Regions from separate parts of the Homo sapiens genome. Here all the other regions are reported to be linked to region 2. Evidence: microRNA targets listed by miRTarBase, many of them from high-throughput screens and not tested one by one. Region 2 holds a microRNA gene; each other region holds the end of a gene's coding sequence.
The links. The annotated mature microRNA hsa-miR-4662a-5p reads UUAGCCAAUUGUCCAUCUUUAG and lies in region 2 at 1,761-1,782, shown strand. An mRNA with a match to its seed (bases 2 to 7 or 8) in the 3' UTR can be bound and repressed. Matches are read on the target gene's strand: a 7mer-m8 pairs with bases 2 to 8, a 7mer-A1 pairs with bases 2 to 7 and ends in A, and an 8mer does both.

Region 1 (4,000 bases), not on the chromosome of region 2:
TCCTCCTCTCCCGGAGGACTTCCCAGACCAATATGAGGCCCTGCCACCCTCCCAGCCTGTCTCCCTGGCCAGCACACTGAGCCCAGACTGCAGGAGAAGGCCCCAGTTTCATCCTAGCCAGTATCTCCCTCCTCACCCATTCCCCAACGAAACGGATTTGGTGGGCCCGCCTGCCAGCTGTGAATTTAGTACTTTTGCTGTGAGCATGAACCAGGGCACAGAGCCCACAGGCCCAGCAGACAGCGTGTCTCTGTCCTTGCACAATTCCAGAGGCACCTCATCCTCGGATGTGTCTGCCAACTGCGGCTTTGACGATTCCGAAGTAGCCATGAGTGACTACGAGAGCGTGGGAGAGCTCAGCCTCGCCAGCCTTCACATTCCCTTTGTGGAGACTCAGCATCAGACTCAAGTGTAGACATCACATCTTGGGTACTTCACCCTGTTTGTTACAGAAAAGTGGAAGCAGATTGGCTGGGCTTCTGTCCCAGTGGAGCATTGTCTGTGGAATGAGAAGGGAATACTGTATTTTTCCACTAGAAACTTCTTCACAAGTCATACTGTCCCAACAAGCAAGCTTGATTCCAGTTGGGTGAAAATGAAAGGCTCAGAAATTGTTTTTGAGAGGTGACTGGTAATCCTTGATGTAGGTACCTATGTTCACAGCTAAAAATGCAAAGAGGGAAAAATTATTTCACCCACTAAGTTATACAGCCAGTCTTGTATGGCTTTGTGCAGTATTGTGCCCTGGAAAGTGTTACAGCATCAGTCCTTGCAGTATTAAAAACTGGCAACAATCAAAGAGGCATTGTTGCATGTAATTTTGAGCCAATGAAATGAAAATAGTAGTAATGATTGTTGGAAAAGTTAGTCTCTTAGGCGAAAGAGAAGAGAAACAAATATTATTAAACAAACCAGAAAATGGGCTGAAGCCTTTTAAATCAACTCTATTTTTTTGATAAGCTGCCCAATTTTCAGCTATAAAATTAGGCTTGAATAACATGTTTAGTATGCTCAGTTATTTCTGTTTGTTTGTGTTAAGCATCCAATCTAATATAGTTGGGTTTTATGATCTTCAAGAAAGGTATCAATGAAGAGCAACATGAGGCTTTTTGGGTTCCATTTGGTGGGTGGGGGAGGAAGTTAAAGTTGTTTGAACATTAGAAAGAATGTGATTATCTGGTTGGTTTTGTGTTTTCTGGTAAATATTCCAGTTGGTAAATCTAACATTGCTACAGAAGTTGGCTTTGTTCATATAGCTTCTCTACAATTAGATATTTTTAGAAGTTTAAGCAAAACTCACAAATTCAGGGGGGAAAAAAGAAAAAACGATACCTTCAAAGTTTGCGGCCTAGATAATCACAATTCTTCATAATGCAGAGGAAAGGTGTCTGTTATTCTAAATCGGTAGCATCACCATTATAAATACAATTATGTTAAGAAAAGAGGAAAGTAGACTAGTTATTGTGTATAAATTATAATAGTGTGTGTGTGTCTGGGCCTATGTACAAATATGTGCTTGCACTCAGTAAGGCTGCTCTTGAGGAAAGCTAATGTGAAGGTTTTGGGAAATGGACCATGTTGAAAATTCTGCCGGCGAGCATGGCATACCTTTCAATTTCTCTGATCTCTATGGTGTTAGAGAAACATCAAATGCCATATTTTACTCTGGTTCAGTTAACTTTATTTTGGTACTGCCAATAAAGCAAAATTGTGCTTTTTTTTTTTTTTCTCAAGACAGAGTCTTGCTCTGTCACCCAGGCTAGAGTGCAATGGCATGATCTCAGCTCACTGCAATCTCCACCTCCTGGGTTCAAGCGATTCTCCTGCCTCAGCCTCCCAGGTTGCTGGGGTTACAGGTGTGTGCCACCACGCCTGGCTAATTTTTTGTATTTTTAGTAGAGATGGGGTTTCACCATGTTGGCCAGGCTGGTCTCAAACTCCTGACCTCGTAATCCACCTGCCGTGGCCTCCCAAAGTGCTGGGATTACAGGCATGAGCCACCGTGCCCAGCCCAAAACTGTGCTTTTTAAAAACAGTATTTTGTTATAATTTTCCAGAACTTACCTCTGTTTTAAAAGTGTGTAATGTTTGATTACACCCTGGGATTCCCTTCTCATCTGTGGGCTTTGGCCATGATTTCCAAAATTAACAGGAGAATCATTCCACTGGAAATATAACAATCCAGTCCTCAAAACTGAAAGTTGACAGGTTGAGGGACTTTCCTTTTTTGCTTCAATCAGATTACGGCCGCCTGTGCAGTGGCCATGGTAAATATATGCATATTTGCACTATCTGCTTAATGAGCAAATCTGTGTCCACAGTTTCTGATGACATATGGCATTGGTGTGTAAATTGTACTGTCCCTAGTCTGTGCATTATTCACTCAGACATATTTTTAGTTATTTCAATTGCGTTTAATCCACTTCTTTTTTATGAGTCAGTGTTTCTGAATGTTTATGCAAAAAAAAAAATCCTTTTTCATTCCCAAACTTTCTAAGTAAGTGGATACACTACACTTCACAAGTTTTCCAGCCTTTCTCTTCCTGTCTCTTGGTCAGACCTACTCATGGAGGTATTATCCACACTGTGATCTTGAAATAAATGAATTTCACTAAGGCTGCTTTCGAGAACAAAGTCTTTGGTATTTTTCTTATGTAAGAAGCACATTTGCAAGAATCATGGAAAAAAATGACAAACTAATGGCCTAGAATAGAGTGACTGCTACACTTTAAGTAATGCAATGACATAAAAACCATCAAAGTAAAACCAACATGTCATTTCCTGCCCCCAGGAAATATTAGAATGAGATTAATGCTGATGAGTCCCTACTGCTTACACAGCATCTCTTTGAGGGAGAATGCCTGACTGACACAGTAATGAAAGAATAAATAGATCCTAATGCAGTCATGAAGCCACTGAAGAAAATTGTGCCCACCCTTTGCTGTGACCTATATAAAATATCTCTTTCTTTGGGATATCATCCCCTGATTTTCTGCAGAATAGCTCTGCAGCTAAATATATACCAGGCAAGCATGTATTGTGTTTTGATTTATTATCTTTAAACACATGATATCTCTTCACTTTTTGGAAAGTTAGATTTCTCTGTAGATTATGAAATGCTTTGCAGTCAGGCCAAGATGCTACTAGGTGGGGATGATCACTAATTCAAAAAAGCTGGAAGAATCCTATTTGCTAGTCCAAACTCCTTATTTTATCAAAGAGGAAACATACCCAGAGTGGGAAAGAGACTTGCCCAAGCCCACAGAGGAAGTTAATTCGCTTAACAAGGAGTAGAACCCATCCATCTAGCCAATATTCTTTTTACATCATATTGTTCACCCCTACACTGCCTTGAGCATGGGAGTCACCTGGTTCTGATGGACCCTCTGACTTCCACCATTCCTTCTTTGGAATATGCTATAAAAGAAAATTCATGGAGAATATTTTTCTGAAAGCCTCATGATCTTATGTTTCCTTGCAGTCCCCCTAGGGAGAGGGGTTATAGAATTCATACATTTCTGTAGACATTCATCGAAATGCTGCTTTTGCCAAATGAATGTTTGTATAATAGGGATGAAATGATAATTACAGAGTTCAGCTCAGACCAGTCATCAGTTGTAGTGAAACTTTGATTATACTGTTACCTACTGGTTGCATTTTTGGTTTTGGTTTTGCATTTTTTTCTTCCCACAAACACTGGCTACTCTTTGTCCTACCCCCTCCACCATGATGAACCATGTGGAAACTATTTAAATCAATTAATGTCTTTCTCATTTTTCGAACATGTATGTGCCACCTCCTGGAAGCCATTTCCCATAATCTGTTGTAGGCACTTTACTAGTATTGCACACATTCTGGTTAGGTTGAGAATAGCTAGACTCTTGGTGCTCGTCATATAGTAAGCAAGAACTTGGGAGTAATAAAAGGTGAATAAAATGCATGCTTCATTTATTCCCTTTCCTCTATGAATATTTTGCTGCTGCATTCTAGTCTATGCCAG
Region 2 (4,452 bases):
ACCTCCTGGGTTCAGGCAATTCTCCTGCCTCAGCCTCCCGAGTAGCTGGGATTACAGGCATCTGCCACCAAGCCTGTCTAATTTTTTGTATTTTCGTAGAGACGGGGTTTCTCCATGTTGGTCAGGCTGGTCTCGAACTCCCGACCTCTCGTGATCCTCCCAAAATGCTGGGATTACAGGTGTGAGCCACTGTGCCCAGCCTTTTCATTCTCTTAATAGGGTGTTTTTCAGAGCAAACATTTTTAATTTTGATGAAGTATCAAGATGCCTCAATTTTTTCTTTTATAAATTGTGCTTTTGATTTTAAGTCTAAGACCTCCTTAACTTAGCTCTAAGTGCTAAAGATTTTCTCCCATATTTTTCTCTAAAAGTGTTGAAGTTTTATGTTTACATCTAAGTCTGTGATCTATGTTAATTTTTGTATAAAGTTTTAAAGTATGAGACTTAAGTTAAAACAAGAGATTTTGTTTTGTTTTGTTTTTTGCTCCAACACCACTTGTTGAAAAGAGTTTCCTTCCTTCATTCACTCGCTTTTGCACTTTTGGTATTTTTGGTAAAAAATCAGTTGAGTATATTTTTGTGGGTCTATTTCTGAGTCCTCTATTCTGTTTCATTGATTTGTGGGTTTATCTCTCCACCAATATCATACTACCTTGGCAACTGTAGCTATATAGTGAGACTTAACACAAGGTAGAGTGCTTCCTCCTACTTTTTAAAATAGTTATCACAGCTATTTTATTTTCAAAATTTTTGCCTCCCATACAAATTTTAGAATAAGCTTGGCTTTGTCTACAAAATCTTTTTGGGATTTTGATAAGAATTGTGTTAAACTATTGATAATTTGGGAAGAATTGACATCTCCACTATGATGAGTCTTCCAGTCTATGAACATGGTATTTCTCCTCATTTATGTAGGTCTTTATTTTTTCATCAGCATTTTGTAATTTTCATCAGAGACATAGTATATGTATTTATACCTAAGTATTTTATTTTCTTTGAAGTGATTGTAAATGGTATTGTTTTTAATTTCAGTTTCCCCATGTTCATTGACAGGATAAACAAATGCATTTGATTTTTGAGTGTTGATCATGTATTCTGTGACCTTACTTAATTCACTTATTAATTCTAGGAGGTTTATTTTAGTTTATGTTTTTTAGATTCTTTAGGATTGTATAAATAGACAATCATGTTATCTGCAAATAGAGATGATTTTATTTCTTTCTTTTCAATCTGTATGTCTTGTATTTCTTTTTCTTGCTATATTGCACTGGCTAGAACTTCTACTACCCTGTTGAAGAAGATGTTGAAAGCAGACATCTTTGTCTTATTCCCAATCTCAGTGGGAAGACGTTCAGTTGGCACCATTAAGTATGATGTTAGATGTTTTTTTTTTTTTGTAAATGCTTTTTCACAAATTGAGATATTTTTCGTCTGTTCCTACTTCAGTGAGTTTTTTTGAAAAATAGGGATCATACTTTGCTTTCACAGGATTGCTGTGATGATTCTAGGTGAAACATAAGTAAAAGTTTATGGCTGTTGTGGGCCCTCAAATAAGGTTTAGAAAAACAACCTTTGGACAACATTAAGGCGAGTCATTACAACTTAAAGTGAAACCTTCTGTAGACAAATGATCTCACATCTTCACTTCTAGGTATCTCTTCTGAAGAAACATTGGCTCATGTCCCAGAGATTTATATACAAGGAAGTTTACTGCAACCATGGCTGCAACAGAAAAAGCCATTGTGTACCACAGTGTCTATTTAGCCAATTGTCCATCTTTAGCTATTCTGAATGCCTAAAGATAGACAATTGGCTAAATAGAAATTGTGGTACATCCATACAATGGAATACCATGAAGCCATCGACAAAACATCAAGATTCTATTGACCAACATGGAAAGAGTGCCATGGATGGGCACGGTGGCTCACACCTGTAATCCCAGCACTTTGGGAGGCCAAGATGGTTATATCACCTGAGGTCAGGAGTTTGAGACTAGCCTGGCCAACATGGCGAAACCCTGTCTCTACTAAAAATACAAAAATTAGGTGGGCATGGAGGCAGGCACCTGTAATCCCAGCTACTCAGGAGTCTGAGGCAGGAGAATCGCTTGAATCTGGGAGGTGGAGGTTGCAGTGAGCTGAGATTGTGCCATTGCACTCCAGCCTGGGCAACAAGAGCAAAATCTCAAAAAGAAAAAAAAAAGAGAGAGAAAAAGTGCCAAGACACAAGGTTAGGTGAACAAAGGAAGTCTCAAAACAGAACAATTTGATTTTATATTTATAAATGGCATAATATATAAATATGGCTTATAAATTTATACTTATATCTACATACATATAGTATATAAGTATGTATTTTTAAAACCCAGTCATATATTGTAAACACATTCCTAAGTGCATAGAAAAAGGCCTAGAAGGACTTGACACTCATTTGTTAACATCGGACATCCTTCGGGAAATGAATGGGATTGGGTAGAGTACAAAGGGGTACAAAAGATCACTTTAAAAAACTTTATAAATATATTTGGTCTTTAAAACATTTTTTTACAATGATAATGTTTATATTTACTATCTGTTTACCTAAATAAGACTCAGGTAGTATGGGGCAGGGAGTAGCAATTTCTAGTGGTAAAATTTCAGACAATTGTTTTCCATAGTCACTGGGACCCAGAATTCCTGAGCTCTCTTTGTTCTATTGCTGGCTGCAATATTAGTTGTATGATTTTGGACAAGTCACTTTCTCTCTCTGGGCCTCAGATTCCTCTTGTAATGAGGAGATTAAACTAGAGTACCCATGGATAAGCATTTTTATTATTCACATTTAAGCATCTGACCTCTCTTTGCAAATAGGTTTTTGTATGTGGAACCTTTATGTATACAACAGAAGAAAGCATGTCAACAACCCAACTATTTGTACCCCGGATCCATTTCAGCACTAACGTTTTCTGACTGGAGTTGAAGGCAGTGAACCCAAAGCCACCCGTCAGAACTATACTGCCCCTCAGCTGAGTGAAAAATAACTGGGTGATTTCAAGTGACCCACAGAAGCTCAGGAGTGACAGTTGCTCTCATAAAATGTGTTCCCTGAGCATTAAGCCCTGGTGTTGGCAGGGTCTGATAGCTCAGGGACTGTTTGAGCTCCAAGGAGATCATTACTGTTTCTAGAGAGTTCTATGAGGACCCTGGGTCTTTGGAAGAACTATCCATTTGTGGTTTTTAGGAGAATCAGGTCCTAGATCACTGAAGCCACAGCCCATGGCCCAGAGCTGTAGCTTTACTGCTTTGGGGCTGCAGCAGGGAGGCGAGGCCACCTGGGGAAGCTGAGGGCAAGAGTAGAGGTCAAGTGCAACACACAGCATGCTGTGAAATATGAGAAAGGCTCATAGTGTCTTTTCTTTGAAATGAAAAGCGCCATCTCGAGTTCTGTGGAATTGGGTCCAGCCTTCCTTGGCTATAACAGGCATGATAAGGATCATTTTGCCTCCTTTAGGAGCAGGGCTAGATGTCCTACAATTCTCTGCATTAGTTGAGCCCATGGACAGTAACAGCCATAGTCTGAGATATAAAAAAAAAAACAGCACATCGCCCAGAAAAAAGCCTGGGCCCTGTGCTTTTGGGATTCTATTCGCACGTGTTTCGGACTGGCAAGACTCAAACCCAGAAAGAGGGACTCCCTGAGAGGGGAAAGGCGGACGTGCAGGGCCACTCTGGCCTAAGTCTTCTCTGTGGATCGAAGCAGAAGGTAGGAAGCCGGTGTTTTATACCTCCCTGCCTTTCCCTGCCCATTTGTGGGATGGAGAGCTGGGGGCCTGGGTGAATGACCTGTTGTAGTTCAGGTCCACACTCCTACCAAGGCACACCAGCATGGAGGGCGGGAGACCTGGGCTCAAGCCCCAGTTGGGCCACTTTCTCATCGAGGCTAGTCACATGCCTTTGCAGGTTCTCAGTTTCATTGTTTTTAAAAAGACCATTAGATTAGATACTTTTAAAGGTCCCTGCCAGTAACACTCAGTGATTCTAGAACTAGATTGTAAGAGCCTGGCAGGGTTCCACTTATTTGGTAAGAGGAAAGGAATAAGCTATAATGGTTAAGTGTGTGGAAACTGGAATTAGATTTCCTGAGTTCAACTCCTGATTCTCCTTTACTTACTGTGACTTTTGGAGAAGGTTTTTAATCTCTCTGAGCCTCAGTTTCTACATTGGCAAAATGAAAATAAGAGCTGTAGTTGATGTTGTTGTTTTAAGGGATGCAAATGATAATCTGAATGAAGCTTCAGGATCCAACAGAGTAAATGTTCAATAAGCCTTATCTTATTGTTTTGTATTTCCCCAGTTTAAGATCATAACAGGAACTGGCTAAAATTACTTCTTGATAAAACAATGCCCCTTACCATAGATTCAATTATCCTACAGGCCAAATCATGTGCCCCATGAGGTTAATTTGTTTATTCAA
Region 3 (4,000 bases), not on the chromosome of region 2:
AAAAAGTGTACGGGCTGGGCACAGTGGCTCACACCTGTAGTCCCAGCACTGAGGCAGGACGATCCCTTGAGGCCTGCAGTTTGAGATCAGCCTGGCAACAAAATGAGGACCTGTCTCTACAAAAAAAAAAAATAGCCAAACATGGTGGTGTGCATCTGTAGCCCTAGCTACTGGGGAGTCTGAGGCAGAAAGATCACTCTAGTCCAGAAGTTCAATGTTATGGTGAACTGTGAACGCACCACTGCACTCCAGCCTGAGCAACACAGCAAGACCCTCCAAAAAAAGTGTAGTTATCGTAACATCACCTTGAAACAACTTTGTTACTGGGATACATTTAATTAAGCAACTACCATGAATGTAGTCGGTACCTTGCCTTACGTGCTTCAGTATATATGTTGTTCTTGTTTTATGTACAGGCTAAATTTGTAGATTGAATAGCAGAATATTAGTTCTGTTCTTATAGGGCCTACTGCTGTATTCAGAGTTATGAGCTACGTTTCTTCTGCGTTTGCTGCACCATGAAATCCTAAGCAAGACCTAAACCCTTGTTCGCTTTTTCGTAGAGCAGAGAGGAGCCTTCAGGGGAAGTAGAGGTGGCCGAGGTTGGGGCACACGAGGAAATCGTAGTCGGGGAAGACTCTACTGAATAAGACATCAGCATTCTTCAGCATTGTCATGAGCTTAATATACTTAAATTCTACTACTCATTGGATTGCCGGGGATGTCCCTTTAAACAGACTGCTGCCTTCAGCTAAAAACTTAATGTTCTTTATACCTTTGTATGTATGACCTACTTTTGTAACAGACCATGGTTGTGTCCAAGGTAAAACCACAGTGATATTTTTGGATGCTTTGTCTGCAATCTTGACTTGTTTTTGCAGTATCATTATTCAGACTTCAAATTGTGAATCTTTTAAACATCTTGATAATTTGTTGTTGAGAGCTGTTCATTCTAAAATGTAATGAAATTCAGTCTAGTTCTGCTGATAAAGATCATCAGTTTTGAAAGGTTACTGATTTTCCTCTTCCCTCTTAGTTTTTTACCCAATATATGGAGAAGAGTAATGGTCAATCTTAACATTTTGTTTTAATTGTTTAATAAAGCTGCTGGGCAGTGGTGCAGCATTCCTACCTAGTGTCATAAAAGCAAAATACTTACATAGCTTTCTTAAAATATAGGAATGACATTACATTTTTAGGAGAAAGTAAGTTGCTTTGCACCGCCTACTTAATTCTTTTCCATATATTGTGATACAAACTTTTGAATATGGAATCTTACTATTTGAATAGAAATGTGTATGTATAATATACATACATACATAAGCATATATGTGTGTGTGTGTGTGTATATATATATATATGCATGCTGTGAAACTTGACTACACAACATAAATCACTTTTTAAATTCCAGGAACGGGTAGTCTGACACGGTGATTATCCTTTTGAGGCTGAATCCGTTATTAACTTGTTATTTAGGTTTTTACTCCCAGTAGCAAGGGATTCTAAGTTAGTTGCACTTACATGATTATTGTTATTTAAAACTAAGAATAAAGGCTGCATTTTCAAAGATAAATTGGAATTGCTGTTGGTGAAATAACAACCAAAATACTGAATCTGATGTACATACAGGTTTCTACAGGAAGAGATGGTATAATTTACAATTTGGAGATTTAATAACCAGGGCTACCCAGAAAAAGTGACTTGATAACATGGTACCAATAAGTAAGGGATGCTCTCTCGGTTTGCTTTTGCCACTTTCAAGATTTTAACTTCTCAGGTTATTAATCAAAATTATTGTATAAGTTAGCCAATAGAATTTTTAGGTTAAAACAACAGATGGGGGGTTTGTGGAGTGTTTAATGTCATGGGCATTTTTAGTAGGATAGACCCTTTGTTCTGCATTTGAATGTTTCGTATATTTTTGTTTCACAGTTAATCTTCCCTCCCCAAGTTTGCTATTCAAATCAACTGCCTGAATGACATTTCTAGTAGTCTGATGTATTTTTCTGAGGAATAGTTTGTGATTCCAATGCAGGTGTCTTCATTACCATTACCTCTACACTGCAGAAGAAGCAAAACTCCTTTATTAGAATTACTGCACATGTGTATGGGGAAAATAGTTCTGAAAGGCTAGAATGATACAAGTGAGCAAAAGTTGGTCAGCTTGGCTATGGAGTGGTGGCAATAATCTCTAAACATTCCAAAAGACCATGAGCTGAACCTAAACTCCCTTGGAATCTGAACAAAGGAATATAAAATTGCCATTTGAAAACTGACCAGCTAATCTGGACCTCAGAGATAGATCAGCCAGTGGCCCAAAGCCATTTCAAGTACAGAAATTATAGAGACTACAGCTAAATAAATTTGAACATTAAATATAATTTTACCACTTTTTGTCTTTATAAGCATATTTGTAAACTCAGAACTGAGCAGAAGTGACTTTACTTTCTCAAGTTTGATACTGAGTTGACTGTTCCCTTATCCCTCACCCTTCCCCTTCCCTTTCCTAAGGCAATAGTGCACAACTTAGGTTATTTTTGCTTCCGAATTTGAATGAAAAACTTAATGCCATGGATTTTTTTCTTTTGCAAGACACCTGTTTATCATCTTGTTTAAATGTAAATGTCCCCTTATGCTTTTGAAATAAATTTCCTTTTGTAATTTTGTTTTGTGTCTTGATGTGTTATAATTATGGTAACTTCAGATTCTTGGATAGTTATTAACATTTATTGATTGCTTCTACTGTGCCAATAGGCTGAAAATATAAAGATGGACAAGAACTGCTCTCTGCCTTCAAGGAGTTCAGTCTTTTTTTTTTTTTTTTTTTTTTTTGAGACGGAGTCTCGCCCTGTCTCCCAGGCTGGAGTGCAGTGGTACAATCTCGGCTCACTGCAAGCTCCGCCTCCCAGGTTCATGCCATTCTCCTGCCTCAGTCTCCTGAGTAGCTGGGACTACAGGCGCCCGCCACCACGCCCAGCTAATTTTTTGTATTTTTAGTAGAGACAGGATTTCACCGTGTTAGCCAGGATGGTCTCAATCTCCTGACCACGTGATCCACCCGCCTTGGCCTCCCAAAGTGCTGGGATTATAGGCGTGAGCCACCGCCCCCGGCCCATGAGGAGTTCAGTGTTGATATAATTTTGTAAATCATCTTTAATTTTGATCCTTGAAAGTTTTTATTTGAATTTATTTTTAGGAGCTAATCTGAAAAAAAGGATTTGGTTTTTTTTTATTAAAGCAAAACATCAGATAATTGCCAAATCATCATTAAGTAAATCATTTCTATCTTCAGATAATGTGCAAAGCAAGTTGGAACTTAGTAATTTAACTGCCAGCCTTTATGAAAATATTCCTGAAGTAGCACTAAGGTTGGTTGTGAGTGTTTGAAAGCTGGGGTTTAAGTGGATCAGGATAAGATAACTAAATTCCCTTGGTGATCACATCTAGGCCTATAGCGTTTTTTTTGTTTGTTTGTTTTGTTTTTGAGACAGAGTTTCGCTCTTGTTGCCCAGGCTGGAGTGCAGTGGTGTGATCTTGGCTCACCGCAACCTCTGCCTCCCAGGTTCAAGCGATTCTCCTGCCTCAACCTCCCGAGTAGCTGGGATTATAAGTGTCCGCCACCACGCCCAGCTAATTTTTTGTATTTTTAGTAGAGACGGGGCTTCACCATGTTGGCGAGGCTGGTCTCGAACTCCAGACCTCAGGTGATCCACCAGCCTCGGCCTCCCGAAGTGCTGGGATTACAGGCATAAGCCACCATTCCCGGCCTTCCAGGCCTATGGCTTTAAATACTATCTATATGCTAAGGAATGCCAAATTTCTTTCCCCATTATTTCTTGCCTAGAGTTTCGTAATAACCTCCTAATTGATCTCCCTGCCGTTACACCTAACTCTACAATCTGCTTGAAACCCAGCAGCAAAGAGACATCTACTTTTCTGCCAGAAATTGTTCACTGGCTCCCCGTTTCAGAATAGTAACCAAAAACATTACCATGGCTTT
Region 4 (4,000 bases), not on the chromosome of region 2:
GGAGGGACCTGACCTGTCCCCCCACGGTGAGAATCCCGTGCTGGGTCCAGACCCTTCCGTTTGCGGGCAGGGGCTGCGGCCCGGGAAATGAGATTTTGCCTGCCCAAGGCTGCACTGTGGTGGCAGGCTCCACAGACTGCTGGCGTTTCCTGCACAGCAGGTGTTGGCAGTGCTGCTGCCCCCTCAGTGCTACCCTGGTTCTTAGCGCTGACTGCGAAAGTGAAATGCCATCTCATCCAAACAGGTAATTTATGGACTCGCCTAGGATCTGCACCCAAGACCAAAGAAAAGAATACGAAGAAAGTGGATCACAGGGCGCCTGGCGCTGAGGAAGACGACTCTGAGCTGCAAAGGGCATGGGGGGCTCTGATTAAGGAGAAAGAGCAGTCTCGCCAAAAGAAGAGCCGGTTAGATAACTTACCATCTCTCCAGATTGAAGTTAGTCGGGAAAGCAGCTCTGGTTCAGAGGCAGAGTCCTGATGCCCCTGGGGCCTATGGCAGCTGCCCTAAAGCCTGACATTCTTGCACAGGGTGGGGCGCGCAGTAGGAACCTCCCCCGCAGGAGCTGGCGCCCTCTCGCTCCTGCTCACACAGTCACCCTCCGCTCTTGCTACTTCGGCAAGACATCTTAAGAATGTGACACATTTTCAAGGGCATCTCTATCTTTCGCTGCAGAGTTGTAGTTCTGGGCCCTCGATTCCTTTCCCACCACCCCACAGGCTTTACCCTTTGAGAAAAAGGCAGCCCTCCAGATTTTGTAGACATTTTTCTTAATATTTTTAACATTGTGTCTTTTAAAAGAAATGTTTTACACAGTTCATCCAAAGAGCAGAGAACTGAACTTCTCACTATTGCCTTGGCCCTGACAGCTGTTACCAGCACCCTTTTCCCAAGAAAAGTCAATTCCCAGGTGCTTATTGGACATCCTTCGAGGGGGAAGAGGAGGGAAGCGGCCAGCTCACCCTTCCGGGACCCTAGTGTGGGGCGAATCTCACGGACCTGACCTCAGAGGTGCACCAGTGCCGCCCAGGTAGATAAGAGCTGCAGCATTGACTGTGCTTCCGTTCTTCCCTCGGGGATTGCTCATGGCATGGGCCTCTTACGTGCTGTCAGCTTGATGTGAAGATCAAGTTCAGTGCTGTGGGATTTTTAGGAACAAAAAACTGTGACGTCTGGATTTGGGGTTGATTTTTGTGCTGGGGTGGGATTATGGGTCAATGTTGAAGAATTTTTAAGTCTGTATTATGTTTAAAACATGAATGATTTGAAAGTTTAAATTTTTAATTTTTATATGTGGAAATTCTTCCTGTTGGCTAAAGGGGAAGCTCAAGTGGTGTCGTCTTTTGTGCTGTTAAATATATATTCTATTCTTTGGAAGAAGGCAGAGAGAGGAGTCTTATTATTTTTAAATGCTCCTAGTTGTATAGTCTGTCTGTTGTACATAGAGTTCAGCTTGTTTTTTGGCTCCAGTAGGAAAAAAAATCCATCCATCTGAGATGGGGTCCTGTTGTTTATTATCACTCTAGAAGTTATACATTGATATTTATTCTTTCTGTCCCCACGTTGTGGCACCTGAAGACATCTTCAAAATTGGCAGAAAAGATAATAGTTATAAAAATTTTAGTTCATTTATTTTTAAACTCCTTTCAGATTATTTTACCATTAGGAGGAGGTAGATTGTTTCGTCTTCCTGTCTGATTTTTGTTTTGTAGTATTTAATTTTGTATTCCTCTGCAGTTTTAAGAAACAGTGTTTTTCTTCGGTTTGCTGGAACATGGGCGTTAGAGATGGTAATAAACCGTGGTCCTTTTTGCGATGTCACGACTCTTCACCTGCCTGGGCTGTTGTGCACACAGTGCAGCCTGGATCCTGTCGATCTTTACTTGTGGCGGAGCTAATGGTCACATTGATAGTTGATTACACTGTGGCACGAATTAATGCAGAACACTGTTATTAATAAAGGAAGTAAAGGGCTGCAAGATTTGAGAGCTGCAACAAAAACTGTATTGTCCCATATTTTGTTGATTAACCTTGCTTTTTCTCCCTCCCTTTAGAGAGATTAGAGGATATAACCATGATATATTTCAGCTTCTTATTAGGATTCTAGGAAAGAGATGGTTCTGGTTTCTCTGCCAGTTGAGACTTAAGACATCTGAGATTTCTCAGCTTTTCTTTCCCTGTGAAGCATACAGCTGAGAGCCAGGTTCTTAGGAAGGGTCAGGGTTTGGGGAGTTGGTAGAGTGAGGAGTGCGGGGGCCTGAGAATCGGACACCTGGATGCCAACCCCTGGCTCTGCTCCATGGACCTGGGCCTCAGTTTTCCCGTCTAGCAGTTGAGTGGGCTGTTACCAGAATTCCTGGCTTTGTTGGTGCATCTCAGTGGCGGTTTACTCTTCCCAAGCTGTGACGGCAGTGGGCTCGCCAGCATGAATTTCTACTGCAGGTGGAGGAGGCGCCAGGGAGACAACTGAGGGCGCGCATGAGGTGTAGACAGGGGCTTATTCCCATCCCAGCACAGTCTCTGCTTCTACTGACGGGGCAAAGATGTCTTGTGGTCAGCGTCCCAGCTGGCATGCCTCTGCAGGGTTTAGAATATGCTCCTTCACAGACTTTCCTTTTGGTTTTACACCAGCAGCTCAGGTCCATTTGTTCCACGGCCTTTCAGCACTCAGCAGTCTCCTGCTACAGATCAGCGAAGCCATTCTGGAAGGAGGTGGTGTGCAGTCAAAACTGGGTCTTTGATGTAACCAAGAGAAATACACACTCGAGTAACCTTACAGTTTTCACAGACACACAGAGAGAACCCAGAAAGGCAGCTTTAAAGATTTTTACTTCTCGGAGTTACTGGCCTTATTAGTTTCTCTAACCCTCCTGCCCACTCTCAGTCACTCAGATCTTGCAACATCTTGAGTGTGTCCTGAATGATGAGGCCTTTTCTTTGGAGTTTAAGAGTAAGAATGGATAGTCAGGACAGGCCCGTGGCAGGCAGCTGGGCGTGATTTTACCCTGGACACTCCCCACACATGTGGGCACAGGGCTGCACACTTTGTGTGTTCCTCTTAGTCTTATGTGTAGGAGATTTTACATACATGTTTGCTGCTTGATGATAATTGCAGATACCTCATTTGTTTCCCACTCTCCTCTCTGGAGAGTTACCAGGTACCCAGGATAATTTGTGGCGTCCTCAGGATGTAGTCTCCTCCTCTGGCCCCCTTGTAGTCTGATCCTGTGAACCCCTCTCCGTTCTTCAGCCACTGCCCTTTCCAGCTGCATTTGTACAGCAGCCTCTTCACTGGTCTCTGCCCTGTCTCCATTCTGCACACTGCAGCGGGATGAACCTTTGTTGTTGTTACCAGCTTAATTTAGATGTAATTTGCATACAGTTCAGCCATTTAAAGTGTACACTTGAGTGGCTTTTAGTATATTTACAGTTATGCACCAGCACCGTAATCAATTTTAAAACACTTTGATCACCCAAAGAAACCCTGAGTCCATTAGCAATTCTCCCTATTCCCTCTTCCCTCTTAGCCTCTGGCCACCACTGATCTTCCTTCTCTCTCTGTGGATTTGCCTGTTCTGGATAGTTCATATAAATGGGATCATATACTATGTGTCTATTTGTGACTGGCTTCTTAACATATTTCTGAGGTTCATCCATGTCATAGCTTCTATCAGTATTTCATTTTTTAAAATTGCCAAATAATAGTCCATTTTATGGGTATGCCACCTTTTTTTTAATCCACATTGGTTAATGGGCATTTGAGTTGTTTCTACTTTAGGGCTATATATATATATTTCTATTTCTATTATTTATTTTTGAGACACAGTTTCGCTCTTGTTGTGCAGGCTGGAGTGCAATGGCACGATCTCGGCCCACTGCAACCTCCACCTCCGGGGTTCAAGCGATTCTCCTGCCTCAGCCTCCAGAGTAGCTGGGATTACAGGCATGTGCCACCACGCTGGCTAATTTTTTGTATTTTTAGTAGAGACAGGGTTTCACC

Region 1: the mRNA of FAT3 is a reported target of hsa-miR-4662a-5p. Seed matches in the 3' UTR shown: 7mer-A1 at 1,874-1,880.
Region 3: miRTarBase lists API5 as a target of hsa-miR-4662a-5p. Seed matches in the 3' UTR shown: 7mer-m8 at 2,165-2,171.
Region 4: the mRNA of NCBP3 is a reported target of hsa-miR-4662a-5p. Seed matches in the 3' UTR shown: 8mer at 1,310-1,317 and 7mer-A1 at 3,960-3,966.

Annotation. Positions count from the first base shown.
Region 1 is chr11:92,890,699-92,894,698 of GRCh38, forward strand. It overlaps FAT3 (FAT atypical cadherin 3), which reads left to right. Exons shown (of 28, transcript NM_001367949.2): 28 at 1-4,000. The coding sequence ends at 415. Among named protein-coding and RNA genes, the nearest start is that of LINC02746, 23 kb to the right of the region's middle.
Region 2 is chr8:124,820,230-124,824,681 of GRCh38, forward strand. MIR4662A (microRNA 4662a) reads left to right here and starts at 1,756; the gene lies at 1,756-1,822. MIR4662B (microRNA 4662b) reads right to left here and starts at 1,829; the gene lies at 1,749-1,829.
Region 3 is chr11:43,341,865-43,345,864 of GRCh38, forward strand. It overlaps API5 (apoptosis inhibitor 5), which reads left to right. Exons shown (of 14, transcript NM_001142930.2): 14 at 564-2,665. The coding sequence ends at 646. Among named protein-coding and RNA genes, the nearest start is that of TTC17, 15 kb to the right of the region's middle.
Region 4 is chr17:3,809,524-3,813,523 of GRCh38, reverse strand. It overlaps NCBP3 (nuclear cap binding subunit 3), which reads left to right. Exons shown (of 13, transcript NM_001114118.3): 13 at 245-4,000. The coding sequence ends at 480. Among named protein-coding and RNA genes, the nearest start is that of ITGAE, 10 kb to the right of the region's middle. RefSeq lists an enhancer at 129-634.